Homo sapiens: one gene and its partner. The protein of the gene in region 1 purifies or fractionates together with the protein of each later gene. This does not show direct contact. Each region holds a gene or a part of one and is shown on either strand. Other genes may lie near its edges.

Evidence for each region.
Region 2: the proteins of SLC14A2 (region 1) and PKP2 purify together in Homo sapiens (affinity purification with mass spectrometry; 2 studies listed by BioGRID and IntAct, with this or other methods). This does not show direct contact.

The regions. Positions count from the first base shown.
Region 1 is NC_000018.10:45,638,219-45,647,424, reverse strand, and holds part of SLC14A2 (urea transporter 2), read right to left. Parts: intron 7,680-9,206; coding exon 7,532-7,679; intron 6,217-7,531; coding exon 6,082-6,216; intron 4,294-6,081; coding exon 4,244-4,293; intron 3,440-4,243; coding exon 3,265-3,439; intron 1-3,264.
Region 2 is NC_000012.12:32,794,216-32,803,421, forward strand, and holds part of PKP2 (plakophilin-2), read right to left. Parts: intron 8,342-9,206; coding exon 8,188-8,341; intron 2,084-8,187; coding exon 1,894-2,083; intron 1-1,893. UniProt on the Homo sapiens protein: A component of desmosome cell-cell junctions which are required for positive regulation of cellular adhesion.

The DNA of each region.
Region 1 (9,206 bases):
CTCCTTGCAAACCTGATTAAAGAAAAGAGATAACAAAATTATGTAAGAGTAGAAATGAGAAGGGGATAAAACCATGCATACAGGAGAGACTGAAATTGTTTTATGAGAACATTATAAGTAACTCTATGGCCACAAACATTTAAAGCTAAAGAAAATTGATTATATCTTAGCAAATGCTCAAGCTTGACTCAAGATGAAGCAGAAAACTTGACTATGTCAATTATGGAAGAAACTGGAAAGATGATTTAAGATCTGCCATTTTAAAGTGCAGCAGGACAAGACTGTCATGGCTGATAGAATTCATCAGTGTTGTATGAGAGGAGATAAAGATGGGAGAAAGTGTTGGGGAGGGCAGAGACTGGGAGAGGGAGAGTGGAAGATGGGTGAGATAGGAAAAGAGTTTGAGACACAGCCTCCTCTAAAGTCCCTTTCTCTCCAAACTGACACATCTTTAATGATTGCATATTTATGTTCAACATAGACACTCTCATTTGTACAGCCAAGAGCTGTTGCTTGTAGTTTGGGGTGATGGTAGAAAAACTGCCAGAATATGGGTCCCCAAACCCTTCTTCTTCTCTCATCATGGCCTGCCCCCATGCAACCTCATGTTGGTGCTGTGAATCTGTAAGTTTAGAGATCTTTTACCTACCCATTCAGCAGGTAGATGAGGTGGGGAAGCCCTGGGGAAGGTGGGACAAGATCACTCCAGGAGCTCTCCAGTCTCGTGAGATGAGGTGAAGAGTTGGCAGGGGTGGGGGAGATGGGGGGAGTTGGTGGGAAAAGAAAGCGATAATCTTGTCCAAATCAGCTGAAATAATTTTTTATATCCAAATAGTTTTCCTCTCCTGGGGATCCAGTAAGCATGGCTAAAAGACAGTCCCCAATCAGACCCAATGCTTTGGGTGGACAGCCTCAAAGAGCTTAATGAAGACAGGAGGGGATTTTCTAGGGCAATGAGTGGGGTCTCTGGTTCTGGTTATCTGTTGTTAAAATACTTTGGGAGCCTTGCCTCCATTTTGGGTAATTGAATCTGTTCTGGAAACCCGGCAGAGAACTGAAGCCCTTATCCTAATATTATAGAGGTTTTCATGCATCATGGGATCGGACCACCTGATCTTCACACTCCCTTCAAACGTTGGGATTCTCTGAACCTCCCTGTCCTTCCTGCCTGGAAAACTCCAGCACTGAAGGGTCATCAGTTTTTCTTTGTCCAAGAGTGGTGTGCTTTCTGGCAGATGAGAGAACAACAGAGTGAGAGGTTGGAGAAGAGTGAACCTTAGAAATAGTTCCCAGACAATGTAGAAGGCGGGTCTTGGTTTAAAACTGCACCCCTTAGTGCACATCACTGGGTATCCTAGTTCTCCAGCAGCCCCAGAGCAGGTCCTCCTGATTCCAGTCATGCTACTGTCACTTTTCTGGGTATCCTCCATTTCCTGAGGGTCTTCATGCTGTCACCAGCATGTAAAACCCCTTTGCTATGTCGCAAGGGACTTGGTGGTGTCTGTTTGGGCCTGTGCACCGCCCACCAGTTTGTAAGCATTAGTATGTAGACTGTCTCTATCAGGGATCTGCAAAATACAGCTTGTGGACCAAATCTAGCTCACTGCTTGTTTAATAAAGTTTTATTGACACATAGCCATACTCATTCATTTACACGTTGTCTATGGCTACTTTTATGCTATAATGACAGGGTTAAGACTTTGCCAAAGAGAATATATGGCCTCCCAGCAGAAAATATTTACTATCTGGCTCTTTACAGAAAAAGTTTGCTGACCCCGATCTATATATATCTTTGTATATGTATATATATATTTAAAAAGACCAAATGAAAGCTATTGACTATAGTTGAGAAACAAAATTATGAAATTCATAGATAATTGTCTTTCTATAGTCAGGGCTACCTATTTGTTTTAAATATCATACACTTCATAAAGCCTCCCATGCTCACAAGCAAATAGAAGAATGAAGTAAATTTCCCAAGCTTTTTACACATGGAACTCAGGTACTTTCCTTAACTGAAATCTCTGCTTAGAGATGCTGGTTTGATTTGTCCCAGCAATCCCATTACTAGGTATATACTGAAAGGATTATAAATCATTCTATTGTAAAGACACAAGCACACATATGTTTATCACAGCACTGTATACAATAGCAAAGTCTTGATAGACTGGATGAAGAAAATGTGGCACATATACACCATGGAATACTATGCAGCCATAAAAAGAATGAGTTCATATCCTTTGCAGGGACATGGATGAAGCTGGAAGCCATCATTCTCAGCAAACTAACACAGGAACAGAAAATCAAACACCACATGTTCTCACTTATAAGTGGGAGTTGAACAGTGAGAACACGTGGACACAGGGAGGGGAACATCACACACTGGGCCCTGTTGGGGGATGGGAGGCAAGAGGAGGGAGAGCACTAGGATAACTACCTAATGCACGTGGGGCTTAAAACCTAGATGACGGGTTGATAGGTGCAGCAAACCACCATGGCACATATATACCTATATAACAAACCTGCATGTTCTGCACATGTATCCCAGAACTTAAAATTAAAAAAATTAAATTTTAAAGAGATGCTGGTTTGACCTAAACTAAGAAATGCTTATCCTCCATAATAAAGTCATATATAGGATTCTAATTTATTAATTCCTCCCTGCTATGGAATATCGCCTTGCCCCTTACAAAGACCACTGAATGGTTAAGACTCCTTATTTAGATAATTCCCTGCCCCAATCGTCCCTGTTTTGACTTTAAAATCCCATCAGTGTGAAATTCCTCTCTTTGTGGTCATTAGTCTCTAGCTCAGCCACTAGAGAGCCTTCCCTTCCTAGCCTGTGTCCCCTGACTTACCCCCCTACTCTGTGTCTGCCTAGGAACCACTCAACAAGTTTAATTTTATAGCATCTATTATTTAGTTTAAGATGCCAAGAAGATCACCTGTTAATTACCTTTCCAAAAGACTACTGTTTTTGTTTTAAGTCAACAACATTTAAGACACACACCTTATTGCTAACTCCGGAAATTTTACTGTAATACCAACATCCCTTAATGTCGCACAATAGATAGTTATGGAGATTCTGGCAGAGAATGAAAATCAGCTTCAGGGAAAGAAAGTTACAGGTGTGCTTGGTTCTACACAGGTGCAAGGAGAGGCAAAGAAGGTGAGTGCTGCAACTGATTGAACCAGAGCAGAGAACACAGGGAGAGGACATCAGGTCAGGCAAAGAGCGTTTCTTCCCCGAACATGGCTATTCACCGCTGGGGGCCTTCTCTTCTTCACCGCTTTTCACTGTCAGGTAGTAGATGCGGTTGGCCTCGGGGTAGGTGACTTTGCTGAGTGGGAGTCTGAAGATGGCTGGGTTGTTTGTCGTCAGGAGCAGGAAGATGATGGTGGCAAGGCAGAAGGCCCAGGTGCCTGGTGGCACGCCCACCTGGAAACAAAAGCATTGGGGACTGAAGAAGTTTCCTAGTTTCCTGTGTTGGGCTGGGGACTCTGGGGGAGAAGGATGTGACAGGCGTTGAGGATGGAGATCCTCCCTCCAGTGAAGGCATTGATATTCCTGGATTTGCAATGTCACAGTAGTTGGTCAAAGAATTTAGGGCTGGATGCAGTGGCTCATGCCTGTAATACCAGCACTTTGGGAGGCCAAGGTGGGAGGATCACTTGAGCCCAGACCAGCCTTGGCAACAAAGTGAGACCCAAAAAAATACAAAAGACAGCTGGGCATGATGGTGCATGCCTCTAGTCCCAGCTACTTGGGAGGCTGAACTGGGAGGATGGCTTGAGTCCTGGGAGGTTGGAGCTGCAGTGAGCCAAGATTGCACTACTGCATTCCAGCCTGGGCAACAGTGCGAGACCCTGTCTTGCAAAGAAAACAAAAACAAAACAGATAATTTGAGCCACAATCAGAATCTTTCAATGATGGAGCTGAAAATTGGCCTGAGGATGTTCCCCCATGTCCAGTCACACAGCTCCATCTGTCCGTCGTGTTTTCCACTGCTAGTTACATTGCAATCTTTCAACACACACACACACCCCTCCCTCTCCTAGAGGTACATGTATGCAATTGTCAATCCTCCTCCGGACAACCTTAGATAAACCTTAACAGAGATGTCGTGTGAGCACCAGCTACCATTACCCGCTCAATGTTCCTTTCCCAGACCCCACAACCCCATATGTCCAGAAGCTCTGGGAAGAGCACTTTGGGGTAGTGTTCAGGAGAATCCACACTTACCACTGACATGATGTTGGAGATGGCTGCTTCCATGTATGCACAGAACAGGGCTGTGGAGGAACAAGGATCACCAGAGTGAGCTTCCCAGGGCCTTCCCCCTAAGCCACTGCCATTGCAGACCAGGGAGCCCAGACCAAGAACAGGAGCCCCACCCTCTCTCCTGCAGCCTCAGATTCTGCACCATGCCCTGACAGCTGGCATGCTTGCCTGGCATTTGTTATCTCTGTAGACAGGTGAGGCCAGTCTCCCACCAGACTGTTCATTCTTCGGGCAGAGATTAAAACATATATTTCCTTTTGTCCCCTCCCTGCTTCCATAGTGGCCTTGCATGGAGTCAGGGGTCAATACACATCATATGCTAGTCTACGCTGATGGTAGCGAAGAGCTAGTACAGGCTGGATGATTGTTGTAGGGGAAGAGTGGTCAGACTATACGAGCTCCTGCCAAGGTCCCTCCTATTCAAGACTGTGAGCAGCTGTGATGCTGCTTGATGTTCACCAAGTCTCACCAGGGCTGAACCTTACTAGACCCCTGAACCAGTCCCCAGGAGCCAGGCAGCTGGGTTCCCCCATGGGAGCTGGGTCCTGAGGACAGTCAGGAAAGCTCGTCCATGTAGCTGGTGCCTCTGGACAAACTCCTTCTGCCTGCAGCTTTGCTCTTTCTCCTTCTCTGTCCGGAACACCTCTTCCCTCTCTCTTTGTCAACTCAGATCCTACTAGAAGTGTTGAGATAAACCCTAGCCTCCCCCTGTAGGCTTCCCAGATGATTCCAGCCACAGGAATCTGCCACTTCTCTGAAGGCCAAAAGCAGTTACGGTCTGAACCTCAAAATAACAGGCACTTTTAACTTGACAAATATTTACTAGGTCCACTGTCTCCATGCCCAGCCTCATGTTGGCTGCTGAGGGGATACAAGGGATATGGAAGTCATTCTCAGTCTCCAAGCATAAGTGGGAAAAAACAAAAGAGAAGCTGTTCCAGACGCTAGTCTTCTGTTTCCTTGACTCTAGTTTTATTTATTAATGTCCTGTCCTGCTTCCAGAGAACAATACCAGGAGAGGAGAGCTGGTGGCAAGCTGGGGCTGGGATTGACTCTCCCTTTTGCCATTAATAGCTATCTTCTAGGGCAAGTTAATTAGCCCCTCTGAGCCTCATTTCCTCATCTGTAAAATGGGCCAGGCAGGCTATGCCTGGTGGTATTCTTGGGGGGATTAAGTGAGTTTGTATATTTATATAACAGGGTATGGTGCTGGGATACAGGTGTATGAGAAGGACTATGGCTGATTTCCCTTCTGGCAGCATATTCTCTGTTTATGGAAATCGAGCTTCCATAATGTGGTTATGATTTTTAGTGCTCCTGGTACATCACCTCACTGGATCATTCCAACAACCTTTGTGGACGCTGCAGCCTTAGTAATTATTTGTGCAATTACTTCTCTCCTGCTAGGCTGTGGCTTCATGAGGATGTAGTCACCATGGTATCTTCTATACCTAGACTAGGTCCTGGCACTTGATGGTGTTGTATAAACAGTTGTTGAATGAAGAGTTATAGAGAGCAGGAATGCTGTCATTAGCACACAAGGAAATGCATATGTGATTTCCTTATAAACTTTACAACACTGTGTAAGTATAATACCATTCGGTGGTTGTGATCCCATTTGACAGAAAAGGGACCTGAAATCCCCAGCTGTTAAGGGCAGCACTGGCATTAGGACGCAAGCCATTGGCCTTTCTGTCACTGCTGAACAGTATTGATTAGTGGTCCCCATGGGTTTCACATAAACAAGGGGGGAAGGAATAGCCAGAATAACCTGGTTGTCAGCTTTTCTGAACACCTACCACAGATGAGGGCCAGCAGGTGAGTCTGCCAGGTGAGGGCATAGAACATGCCTCCGATGGCGATGCAGGAGAGGACGCAGTTGTAGCTCCAGAGGCCTGTGTAGATGGTCTCGAAGGGTGTGGCCACTGACAGGGCTATGGGACAAGGTGTGGTATTTCTGTCTGATTCTGGGCCACAGAACAAAGACCACCCTGGGACTGGTGCCAGGTCTCAGAGTGGCCTCCATGCTGTTGTTCACCCCACATCTCCAAACCTGCCCATCAAAAGAGCCTCTACAAATGGCATCCGGTCTTAGGAGACCTTCAATGAAAAGAGAACAGTGGTTTCCAAACCAGTTGTCAAAGCCACAGGCTTCACTTGGAGGTCCTCCTGGGTGAGAAGAGGCAAGGAGGTGGGATTCTAGGCCCCTTCTTACTGCTTTGACTACAGCAACTGCAGTCTTAGCAAGAAAGTTTCCAAAAAGGTTTGAAGAGTTAAACAAATATTTTTAAAAGTTGTTTCAAGTGCTCTGGAAAAATATCCCTATACACTTATGGATATATGTAGATAGAGGAATGATACAGCAGAAGGAGTAAGATGTGAACAGTGGGTACATCTGGGGAAAGAATTTACAGATGCCTCATATTTTTATTTTTACCATTTTTTGATGAGTTTAAAACTATTTCCAAATAAAAAATACTTTTTAAAGTTTTGCTTCCAAAAAAATCTTTGAAAAATATTAGAAGAAGTCTAAAACAGGTTCCTACTCCCAATGCTCCTACCCCAATCTCTGACTCTGTTGTCAGAAAGAGCAAATACCTATTTAAATGTGTATACATACATATACACAGGTAGCAATATTAAAGCACATTTGTTAAGTGGCAATCCAATGTTTGAGAACAATTTTCTTTGTATCTTACCAAAAATTTCAGAGTGCTGGGCCATTTATTTTATCACAGTTGGTCTTGGTTACTGCTCCCGCCCCTACCCCTGTGTCTCTCCAGCATCCTCAGCTCCAGGGGCTCAGTTTGCAGGCCAACTTGGTTCTTACCCCCTTGCATCTCTCCACATGTATTTTTTTTTTTTTTAAGACGGAGTCTCACTCTATTTCCCAGGCTGGAGTGAGGTGGTACGATCTTGGCTCATTGCAACCTCCACCTCCTGGGTTCAAGTGATTCTCCTGCCTCAGCTCCCCAAGTAGCTGGGATTATGGGTGCCCACCACCACACCCAGCTAATTTTTGTACTTTTTTTTCTTTAGTAGAGATGGGTTTTCACCCTGAGTTCAGGTCATCTATGTGCCTCGGCCTCCCAAAGTGCTGGGATTACAGGCATAAGTCACCGTGCCTGTCTCCCTGAAAGTATTTAAAACTGCAGGGAAGAGAATGTCTGGAAGATTTGCTGTATGTAGGGGAAAAGTGACCTTGAGTGAATTATCCTGAGGACCTGAAGAGAGGGAGCTCTGTCCTACCTGCTAGCAGCCCCACGATTGAGCCAATGGCTGCATGCAAGCAGATGAGTGGCGAGGAGATGAACAGAGCCACCAGGAACACGCCGCCTGTCCAGGGATTGTCACAGCCATACACCTGGCCGACCCCAACAGGGATGGCTTGTAACAGCTGCAAAGTTAACAGAATACAGGTCACTGGAGCATGGACAATAATGCAAAAACCAGACTCAGGGCCAGATTTGAGCCATTCCTCGGGGGAGTAATGGAGTGGAACGGGAGGATGACTGTACCCTCCAGCATGTGAGAGAACATGGGAGGCATGAGCTGGAACAAACAGCTCCTCACTCTACCACCCAGCAGGCATGTGAGCATCCCTCATGCAAAGCCAGGGCCCCCAACATGGGCTGGGCATGGATGCTTCTGAGGAACATACGGCTTCTGCTTTGAGGGGACCAGAATGCACCTCCTCCCTAGAATGCCGCTGGGAGTTTCAGGGCTCTCGGGGATTTCCTCTAGACCTTCTGAAATCCATACAAATATTCTAGGAATATTGAAAATACAGTAGGCCATTTTGATGTATGATTTGACTAAAAGTCACCCAGCCTGTTGTTGGTCAAGTGCAGGCTAGAGGCTCTGAGCTTGACCCCTAGCTCAGGTCTGAGGTCTTTGTCACCCTTGCTGTCTCTTTGTCAAGCCACTGCTGACACGTCCTCTTTGGCGGCCCCTGCCCATTCACTGCTACCCTGGGGGGTTGTGAGCCTTTGGAAAGGAGCAGTAGGCATGCCCCCTGCTCTCGAAGACCGCATAGCATTGTAGAAAGGTAGTATGTGGCACATCTGGAGAATGGCCTGAAGCCCAGACATCCCTGAGCCTGAGAGTAACTTGGTGCTGGAATTGGGGAGAATTTGTTTGGCAGTGCTGACAGATGGCTTTTCTGTGGCCAGGCTGAATTGTCGATATTTTTGGAGTCCTTTGAGGGCAGAAAAAGAAAGGAGGGAGAATGGCAGGGCAGGCAGAGCACTGGCCTGGGAGTAGAGGGCTCTAGCTTCCATCAGGGCTCTGCACAGTTCACTGTGTGACTGTGAGCATGTCACATCCTCGTCTGTAACAAGAGGCTGGCTTGGCAGATGATCTTCCAGCTTTAAGACTCTGTAGTTCTTTTCACCATTGCCAGGTCACATGACCTCTGTGAGGACAGGGCCCTTTATGCCCAGGTACACCATAGGTGCTTAACAAATAGGAATTGATTAGGTCAGTGGTTCCCAAACTTTGCTGTACAGTGGAATCCCCTGGGAATCTTTAAACAAATACTGATGCCCAGCTCTTCCCTAGACATTCTGATTTAATTGATATGGGGCATGGCAGGTCCTCAGGTGAGTCTAGTGTGCGATGGGAGATTAGTTATAGATGATCTACTGTAGACGTTGCTGTAGATGTTGGGAATAATTTAGTTTCTCCCTTTGGACCAAATTTTGTACTTTTTGACAATTTGATTTAATTCTGGAATAAGTATGATTTCTTCAGGGAGTAGTATTTGAAGAGCCTAGAGGGCTCTTAAACTTTGCTCACTCTTGTCTCTGAATGAATGGTCTTTTAATAACCAAATGCTGTTTGGACCAGAGTTTATAATCTTGCGAAAGGAATGGCAAGGGAGGGGTACTCAATCATATTTATTTATAGAAACCCAGAAAACACT
Region 2 (9,206 bases), on another chromosome or scaffold:
AAGGGCAAATAAATCCATCAAAGTGATGGGTCTCTAATATTCAAAACTGTAAAAAGTTATTAAATTGCAAGGCTGTTATATTCATAATATTTGTTTATAAGTTGGTTGTTTGATACTTGGTACTCTTTTATTCAAAGATGTAATGTTATAAATGATAATTAGTTCCCAGGCTAGTCCACAAACGGTAGGTCAGATATATAACACTCTAGTAAGGAAAGAGCAGCAGACACCACTGGCAAGAAGCTCCTTGTTAACTTTTGTTTTTGAGACAGGGCATGTGAGGACTCACAAGTGGACACTCGGAAATAAACAAGTAACAGAGTAGCTCACCCCTTATCTTGCTAAGCTACCAGAAGTTTCCAAAAGTAATTGCATATTGCCATGTGCAACAATTGTTATGTCTGAATACTCGAATAATGAGCATCATACTATCTTACGGTGATTTGCTTGGAAGTTTGGATGACTATTTGGAAGAAAAGTCATTTCTGTTTTGCAACAGTAATTCACTCTTTCCACAAAGACTGAGCAACTCTAATACTATCTGCCAGCCTCTGGGGATGGGTGAATATTCTTGGGGAACTGACACTCCAGCCAGTGCTCAGGGCTTGTTTTAATCTGACTCTAAATGCAGTCTTCCTTCCTTGTGTGCACTGCAGAGTGGGGCTGCAGAGCAGAAGGGGCCTAAATTGGGTGGGGCTGTAGTAGAGGTAACATGTACATCCCTGTACAGCCAAGCACACATTTCTTCAGTACAGGTGAAGTCATCTGCTTTGTAACTCATTAAAACTAGGCTATCATAGCCATTTCTTTTCTTGTTTGGTTATTTACAAAAGTAACATATCTATTTGTAATAAGTCAAACAATTCAGAATTGTATAAAGAGAAAAAGATAATCTTCATGCCCCTTTCCAATCTCATCACTCTAAATTAACTAATAGTAAATAATTTGGTTATACAAGGTTTTTCATTCTCCTCCTTTTTTTTTTTAATAGGGAAAAGTTGAAAACAGGAACACAGATGTGGAATGACATGCATTGGACCTTCTATTATCAAAAGGGAATAAGATGCGGAAGAGATAAGACAGAGAAAAAACTGTGAAAGCAAGACTTTCTCATCAGGCTACCCCCTGACTGCTTCTCCTGTGTCATCACTGCTGCTGCTGCTTTTTTTTTTTTTTCTTTTTTGAGACAGAATCTCACTCTGTCAACCAGGCTGGAGTGCAGTGGCACGATCACGGCTCATTGCAACCTCTGCCTCCTGGGCTCAAGTGATTCTCAAACCTCAGTCTTCCAAGTAGCTAGAATTACAGACACGCACCACCACACCCAGCTAATTTTTGTATTTTTACTAGAGACAGGGTTTTGCCATGTCGGCCAGGCTGGTCTCGAACTTCTGACCTCAAGTGATCCATCTGCTTGGGCCTCCCAAAGTGCTGGGATTACAGGCATGAGCCACTGTGCCCAGCCCATCACTGCTTCTTCTAAACCACCTGGTGTGACATCCCCTCCTAAGATGGAAGTGAGGAAAAGGGCACTTGCCTATTCAGAGGACTCCTGCTTTGCCTACATTCTGCTGTTATTAAATCACAGCTGTGGCTTTGGGAAACTAATTCATTAGGCCAATACAATGCTGGAATGCACAACCAAGAGAAGTTCTGGAGTCTGACCCTCTGTTGATACTTTAGAAGAGAAGGGACAAGCATGTGGTGTGGTGGATTCAGTTCTTTCCTTGGCTGATCACTGAGGGCTGACCAGATGATCTGGCCTGGCTTTACATCCTGTTTGCTGCCATGTTGCACATGATGGTCATGACCGCACATTCACAACCGGATTATTTACACACAGGCTGGTGAGGGGAAAGGGAGGCAGCTGACGGGCAGAACTGAAGGACTTACGCATCGCCTGCACTAATGGCCATAATTTTCTGGATGCCCCCGGTGTTTAGAAGGTCGCGTGCATTCTGGTAACTGTTTTGGATTATGTTGTTCAATGTGTAACAGGCAGAGGCTGTAGTTTCAATGAGAAGGTCAGTACTCGGGACTGTGTCAGGAATGATGGAAACCAAATCAGGGAGAGTTTCTTTGGCTACAAAATGAAAAAAAAAACAAAACACTTGATTAAAAAGATTGTTTCTTAATCCCAAGATCCCAATATATTTTGGGTGAAGAACATTCTTTTTCTTTTTTTGAGACGGAATCTTGCTCTGTTGCCCAGGCTGGAGTGCAGTGGCACCATCTTGGCTCACTGCAAGCTCTGCCTCCCGGGTTCACGCCATTCTCTTGCCTCAGCCTCCCGAGTAGTTGGGACTACAGGCACCCGCCACCACGCCTGGCTAATTTTTTTATTTTTTTATTTTTTTTTATTTTCAGTAGAGACGGAGTTTCACCGTGTTAGCCAGGATGGTCTCGATCTCCTGACCTCGTGATCCGCCAGCCTCGGCCTCCCAAAGTGCTGGGATTACAGGCGTGAGACACTGCGCCCGGCCAAGAACTTTCTTAAAAAGAAACACAGCTGGTTAACAACACATGGAAAGATGTAATTTCCCTAATAACAAATTTTTAAAAATATTTGAAAAGAGGATACTCTGTGCTCAGTATATTGAAAATCTTTTCAGAGTGTAATTTGGCAGAAATGTCAAGAACTTAAAACATTTTCATCTTCTTCAATTCGGTAATTCCATGTCTAGGAATACATCTTAAAAATATCACTTTGAAAATGAAAAAAGCTTTCTACAGAGATCTTTATGACAGTACTACATGTAACTGAAAAACTAAAAAGCCTGAATATCCTTATAATAGGACTATGATTAACTAAAACACACCTGCAAAGACTATTATTCATCACAAAACCTATCTATGAAGCATGTATAATAAAAAGAAAATAATTATGTTAATAGTGTATGTGAAAAATCAGTATATTTATATAAATAATACATAATATTATTGGCCAGGTTCGGTGGCTCACACCTGTAATCCCAGCACTTTGGGAGGCTGAGGTGGGTGGATCACTTAAGGTCAGGAGTTCAGGACCAGCCTGGCCAACATGGTGAAACCCTGTCTCTATTAAAAATACAAAAATTAGCTGGGCGTAGTGGCACATGCCTGTGCCTGTAGTCCCTGCTACTCAGGAGGCTGAGGCACAAGAATTGCTTGAGCTTGGGAGGCAGAAGTGGCAGTGGGCAGAGATCACGCCACTATTCTCCAGCCTGGGCAACAGAGAGAGACCCTGTCTCAAAAAAAAAAAAAAAAAGAATACATACTATTACCAAAAAACCCACGTAAGAAACCTGAGGAAAAATGTTAATAGGAGCTGTTTTTCTACAACAATATTAATAGTGAACTAAAATCTTTTTTTTTTTTTGAAACAGAGTCTTGCTCTGTCACCCAGGCTGGAGTGCAGTGGCGCGATCTCGGCTCTCTGCAAGCTCCGCCTCCCGGGTTCATGCCATTCTCCTGCCTCAGCCTCCCGAGTAGCTGGGATTACAGGTGCCCGCCACCACGCCGGGCTAATTTTTTTGTATTTTTAGTAGAGACGGGGTTTCACCTTGTTAGCCAGGATGATCTTGATCTCCTGATCTTGTGATCCGCCCGCCTGGGCCTCCCAAAGTGCTGGGATTAGAAGCGTGAGCTACCGCGCCTGGCCAAGCTAAAATCATTTTTAAGGCCAGGCAAGGTAGCTCATGTCTGTAATCCCAGCACTTTAGAAGGCCGAGACAGGAGGATCACTTGAGCCCAGGAGTTTGAGACCAGTCTGGAAAATATAATGAGACCCCGTCTCTATTTTAAAAAGTAAAATTAAATAGTAAATAAATAATAAACGAATAATCTTTGCTTCCCAAGGTTTTTCCAATACATAAGTAATACTACTCTTGTTTTTTTTTTTTTTTTGGAGATGGAGTTTCGCTCTTGTTGCCCAGGCTGGAGTGCAATGGCACGATCTCATCTCACTGCAACCTCCGCCTCCCAGGTTCAAGCAATTCTCCTGCCTCAGCCTCCCGAGTAGCTAGGATTACAGGTACGCACCACCATGCCCGGCTAATTTTTTGTATATTTTTTTTTTCAGTAGAGATGGGGTTTCTCCATGTTGAGGCTGGTCTCGAACTCCTGACCTCAGGTGATCTGCCCGCCTCAGCCTCCCAAACTGCTGGGATTACAGGCGTGAGCCACTGCGCCTGGCCTACTATTTTAAAAAGAGAAATAAACTATTTTAAATGTACTTTTCTACTATGTATATAACTTCTTGGTTATAAGTTTTGAGTTTGGCTTTTTTTTTTTGTACTAACAAGAAAGGTATTAAAAAAATAGACATGCCACTTTCACAATTAGGCTATAGAAAATAAAAAAGATACATAGACCAATGGAATAGAATAGAAAACCCAGAAATAAAGCAAAATACTTACAGCCAACTGATCTTTGACAAAGCAAACAAAAACATTAAGTGGGGAAAGGCCACCCTATTCAACATATTCAACAAATGATGCTGGGATAATTGGCAAGCCACATGTAAAAGAATAAAGCTGGATCCTCATCTCTCACTTTATACAAAAATCAACTCAAGATGGATCAAAGATTAAATCTGAGACCTGAAACCATAAAAATTCTAGAAGATAACACTGGAAAAACTCTTCTAGACATTGGCTTAGGCAAAGAGTTCATGACCAAGAACCCAAAAGCAAATGCAACAAAACCAAAAATAAGTAAATGGGATCCAATTAAACTAAAAAGCTTCTGCACAGCAAAATAAATAATCAGCAGAGTAAACAGACACCCCACAGAGTGGGAGAAAATATTCACAAACTGCATTCGACAAAGGACTAATATCCAGAATCTACAAGGATCTCAAAAAAGCAAGAAAAAAGCCAAATAATTCCATCAAAAAGTGGGCTAAGGACATGAATAGACAATTCTCAAAAGAAGATATACAAATGGCATAAGAAAAATTTTTTGATACGCCTCATACATATGAAAAAATGCTCAACATCACTAATTATCATGGAAATGCAAATTAAAAGCACAATGAGATACCACCTTACTCCTGCAAGAATGACCATAATTTAAAAATCAAAATTTAATAGATGTTGGCATGGATATGGTGAAAAGGGAACACTTCTACACTGCTGGTGGGAATGTAAACTAGTACAACCACTATGGAAAACAGTATAGAGATTCCTTAAAGAACTAAAAGTAGAACTACCATTTGATCCAGCAATACCACTACTGGGTATCTACCCAAAGGAAAAGAAGTCATTATATGAAAAAGACACTTGTACATGCATGTTTATAGCAGCACAATTCACAATTGCAAAATATGGAGCCAACCTAAATGCCCATCAACCAACGAGTGGATACAGGAAATGTGGTATATACACACCATGGAATACTACTCAGCCATTAAAAAGAAAGACATAATGGCCTTTGCGGCAAATTGGATGGAATTAGAGACCACTATTCTAAGTGAAATAACTCAGGAATGGAAAACCAAATATTGGATGTTCTCACTTATAAGTGAGAGCTAAGCTATGAGGATGCAAAGGAACAAGAGTTATATAATGGATTTTGGGGACTTGGGGGAAAGGTAGGAAGGGGTGAGGGATAAAAGACTACACATTGGGTACAGTGTACACTGCTCAGGTGACATGTGCACCAACATTTCAGAAATAATCACTAAATAACTTTTGCATGTAACTGAACACCACCTGTACCCAAAAATCTATTGAAAATTCTTAAAAGGTGTTAATATTTGATAAATCCACTGGAACTTGTCCTATGGTACATATTTTGGTCAATGTGAACTTGTGCTTAAACTTTTTGTAATAGTTATTTTCATGTATGTTTTCCTCTTTTTCCTCTAACCACTTTAGACTCTTCTTAAAAGATAGAGAGCATGCATCTTTTGCTTTTGCTGATCCCCACAGCTTCTGAATACGTGTTGTGTTTATCAGCAATTAACAAATACTGCCTAATTTTATTGTGTGCCTTCATCTGTGTTCATGTGGCATCTTGAAGCACATTTCTCTCTCTATGATACTGATAGTAATGAATTGTGTGACTGTCTCAACTTCAGATGAGGCTGTGGGTTCCTTGAAGCCAATTATCTTACTTATTTCTGTGTTTACAGCGTTGATCATTATTCCTGAAATGGACAAGTACTCAATAAAAGGCACTGAATGATATGTCATCATAATACCTGGACCTGATTGACAGGTAAGACATACCTTTTGCTCACAGGCCTGAACACTTTCCTTTTGACTGTGGTTCAAGCACACAGCATACTGTGGAGAGCTCAGCGTTCATCTAAAGCCAGAGTGCTGTAGTTTCAGTCCTGGTTCTGCTACTTTACAGCTCTATGGCCTGAGCAAGCTACTTAATGTCTCTATTTGTTTTTCCCTAAGTTGCAATGTGGGATAATAATGTCTACGTCACAGGGTTGTTCTGAGGGAACGAGTCAATGCATGTTAATTGTATTGCAGTACTGCGCATGTGGTAAGCTCTCAGTGGATGCTATTATCAGAAGTCTCCCTCCTTTTAGTAAGTTAAACTACAGAATGAAAGGCCTTGACTGGCAAAATAGCACTGTGAGATACAAACCCATGTTTTCTGTGTGAAATCTGTTATTCTGTTACCATGCTCCATTGCCTGTCTTTAAGTTTTTGAGAAAATGTAAGTTTCAAGTTTATTTCTCTAGATGTAAGTAAAACATAACAACTTTATTGCAGGTGAGAACAGGGAAAGTTACCTGGCTTAGAAAGCTCTCATGAGAAACACAAAGCATGTGTTCAAGCTGACTTTCACTTATTTCTTGCTATTAAAATTCTGAATTAAGAGAAGTCCTTTTACTTATATATTTGACATGAAGCCAATCTGGAATTTTAAAATAGCATTTATCTTGCTGAAGCCTCTTTTCTCTGTTATCCTTAAAGTGAAGTTTATCAACAGAATCCTCTAATATAAACCATGTGGCTACAGCTATACCTTCCCGACATTTAGGGGACTGCAGAACCTGAGGCCAACAGCATTTCTGCCCTGAAGGTACATGCTTAATGTGTATAGTGCTGTTATTTACCTTGGTGGTGTTTTAAAGATGGAGTCAATTTTTCATTTGGGAAAAGAACAAAAAAGGGAAAGGATAATACACTGCCATTGAAGTTCAGCACAAAAGACCATGGGGAGAGCATTTTAATAATTCTGAGAGTGCCTATGGCGAGGTCTCTTTCAGATTCACTGAGAATGTTCCAGGCTTATCTCTACTTAGAATGAGCATGAAGCCATTGCATAAAACCTCCTGTCAAATGTGCTGCTGGCTGGCTTTGAAAATGACATTACTAAAACATAACTGCAGCCTTTAATATCTCTGGGGCTATATATGTGCATATTTAAAAATCTAATCCATTAAAACAGGCAAAATATTGTTTATAATTTTTGTGAAATGTGAAAAACCGAATTTGAGTTGTTAGAAACGACCGATTACAGAGCATTATGAAGCATGTTTAATTTTAGCATTATCTTTCTATCATCTCATTTTGTAATTTTCTACTAGATACAACAAACATTTATCACATACTTCTTGGTATAAGCAAACAAATAAAAAAGTACCGTTATCATCTCTGTCAATAATACAGTCAAAGGCAAAATATGTCTCATCACAGTTACTCAAAAAAAATCCATGCCAAATTTGCTATATTCAGTGACTCCTTGTCTTTTTATTGTGATTATCTGTTTATCCATTTTTTTAATAGTCCAACACACTGCCAAACTACTAAAGTAAACCACCACTATATGTGTTTTTCAAATGTTCTAGAATTGTGGTGCTTAAGAGAGCCACAGAGAGAACATTCTGAAAGACAACTATATGGATTAGAAAGACTTCATTGGATGGTGTGACTGAGGGTGCCACCCAGTGAAAAATATCAACAATATTACTTATCTTGTTAATTATTAGTATGCTCTAAAATTTCTCTTTTGTAGTAATTTTTTTTTTAAATGTTGGATATTTAAAAAAAATCTCTGGTGAGATCCACTGAGAAAGCCTGTTTGTGATATCTGGTGGCACAAAAGGCAGGCCGGTTTATCACCTACTCCTTACTCCCATTTCCAGTGCATCTTTGTGAACGGGAGGTGATACAGACAACATTTCATTGCATTGTATCTTCAGCATGTACATATTACACATAGATACTTATACCGACTCACCAATTTCATTCTGCAGAGAAAGATTCCGGGACAGATTCCTCAGCAGCGAGATGGCTGTCTTTTTCACACTTGGGTCACCAACATGCAGCATCTTTCGGGTGTGCTGCAGGCCACTTTCCTTCTGGACAACTGTCTGAGCCACTGATGTCGGCATCTGTTTTGTGAGACATATCCTATAAGTGCTATTGTATTTGATTTCACGATAACATTAAGTTTTCTGTAGATTACCAGAGGTTGATGAAGATGTTTTATTTTTATCTTATTTATTTATTTTGAGACAAAGTCTCTCTCTGTCATTCAGGCTGGAGTGCAGTGGTGTGATCTCAGCTCACCACAACCTCCACCTCCCAGGTTCAAGTGATTCTCCTGCCTCAGCCTCCAGACTAGCTGGGATTACAGGTGTGTGCCACCACGCCCAGCTAATTTTTTGGAATTTTAGTAGAGATGGTGTTTCACCATGTTGGCCAGGCTGGTCTCGAACTCCTGACTCAGGTGATCCACCTGCCTCAGCCTCCTAAAGTGTTGGGATTACAGGCGTGAACCACCATGCCCAGCCGAAGATGTTTTAAAAATTAGAACTGTGATGGAACTAGTCTAAAGGTATTTTCTTTAAACTCTTATTAAGTTTTCAAGTCAATTACTAGATAAAAACCTGTTTATTCAGTACTTTTAAATGCAATCTTGGGGCCGGGTGTGGTGGCTCACACCTGTAATCCCAGCACTTTGGGAGGCCAAAGCTGGCTGATCACCTGAGGCCAGGAGTTCAAGACCAGCCTGGCCAACATGGTGAAACCCTGTCTTTACTAAAAAATACAAAAATATTAGCCAGGCGTGGTGGCACGTGCCTGTAGTCCCAGCTACTCAAGAGGCTGGGGCAGGAGAATCGCTTGAACCTGGGAGACAGAGGTTGCAGAGAGCCAAGATCATGCCACTGCGCTCAGCCTGGGTGACAGAGTGACAGTGTCTAAACAAACAAACAAACAAACAAACAAATGCAATGCAATGTTGGATTTAATTAG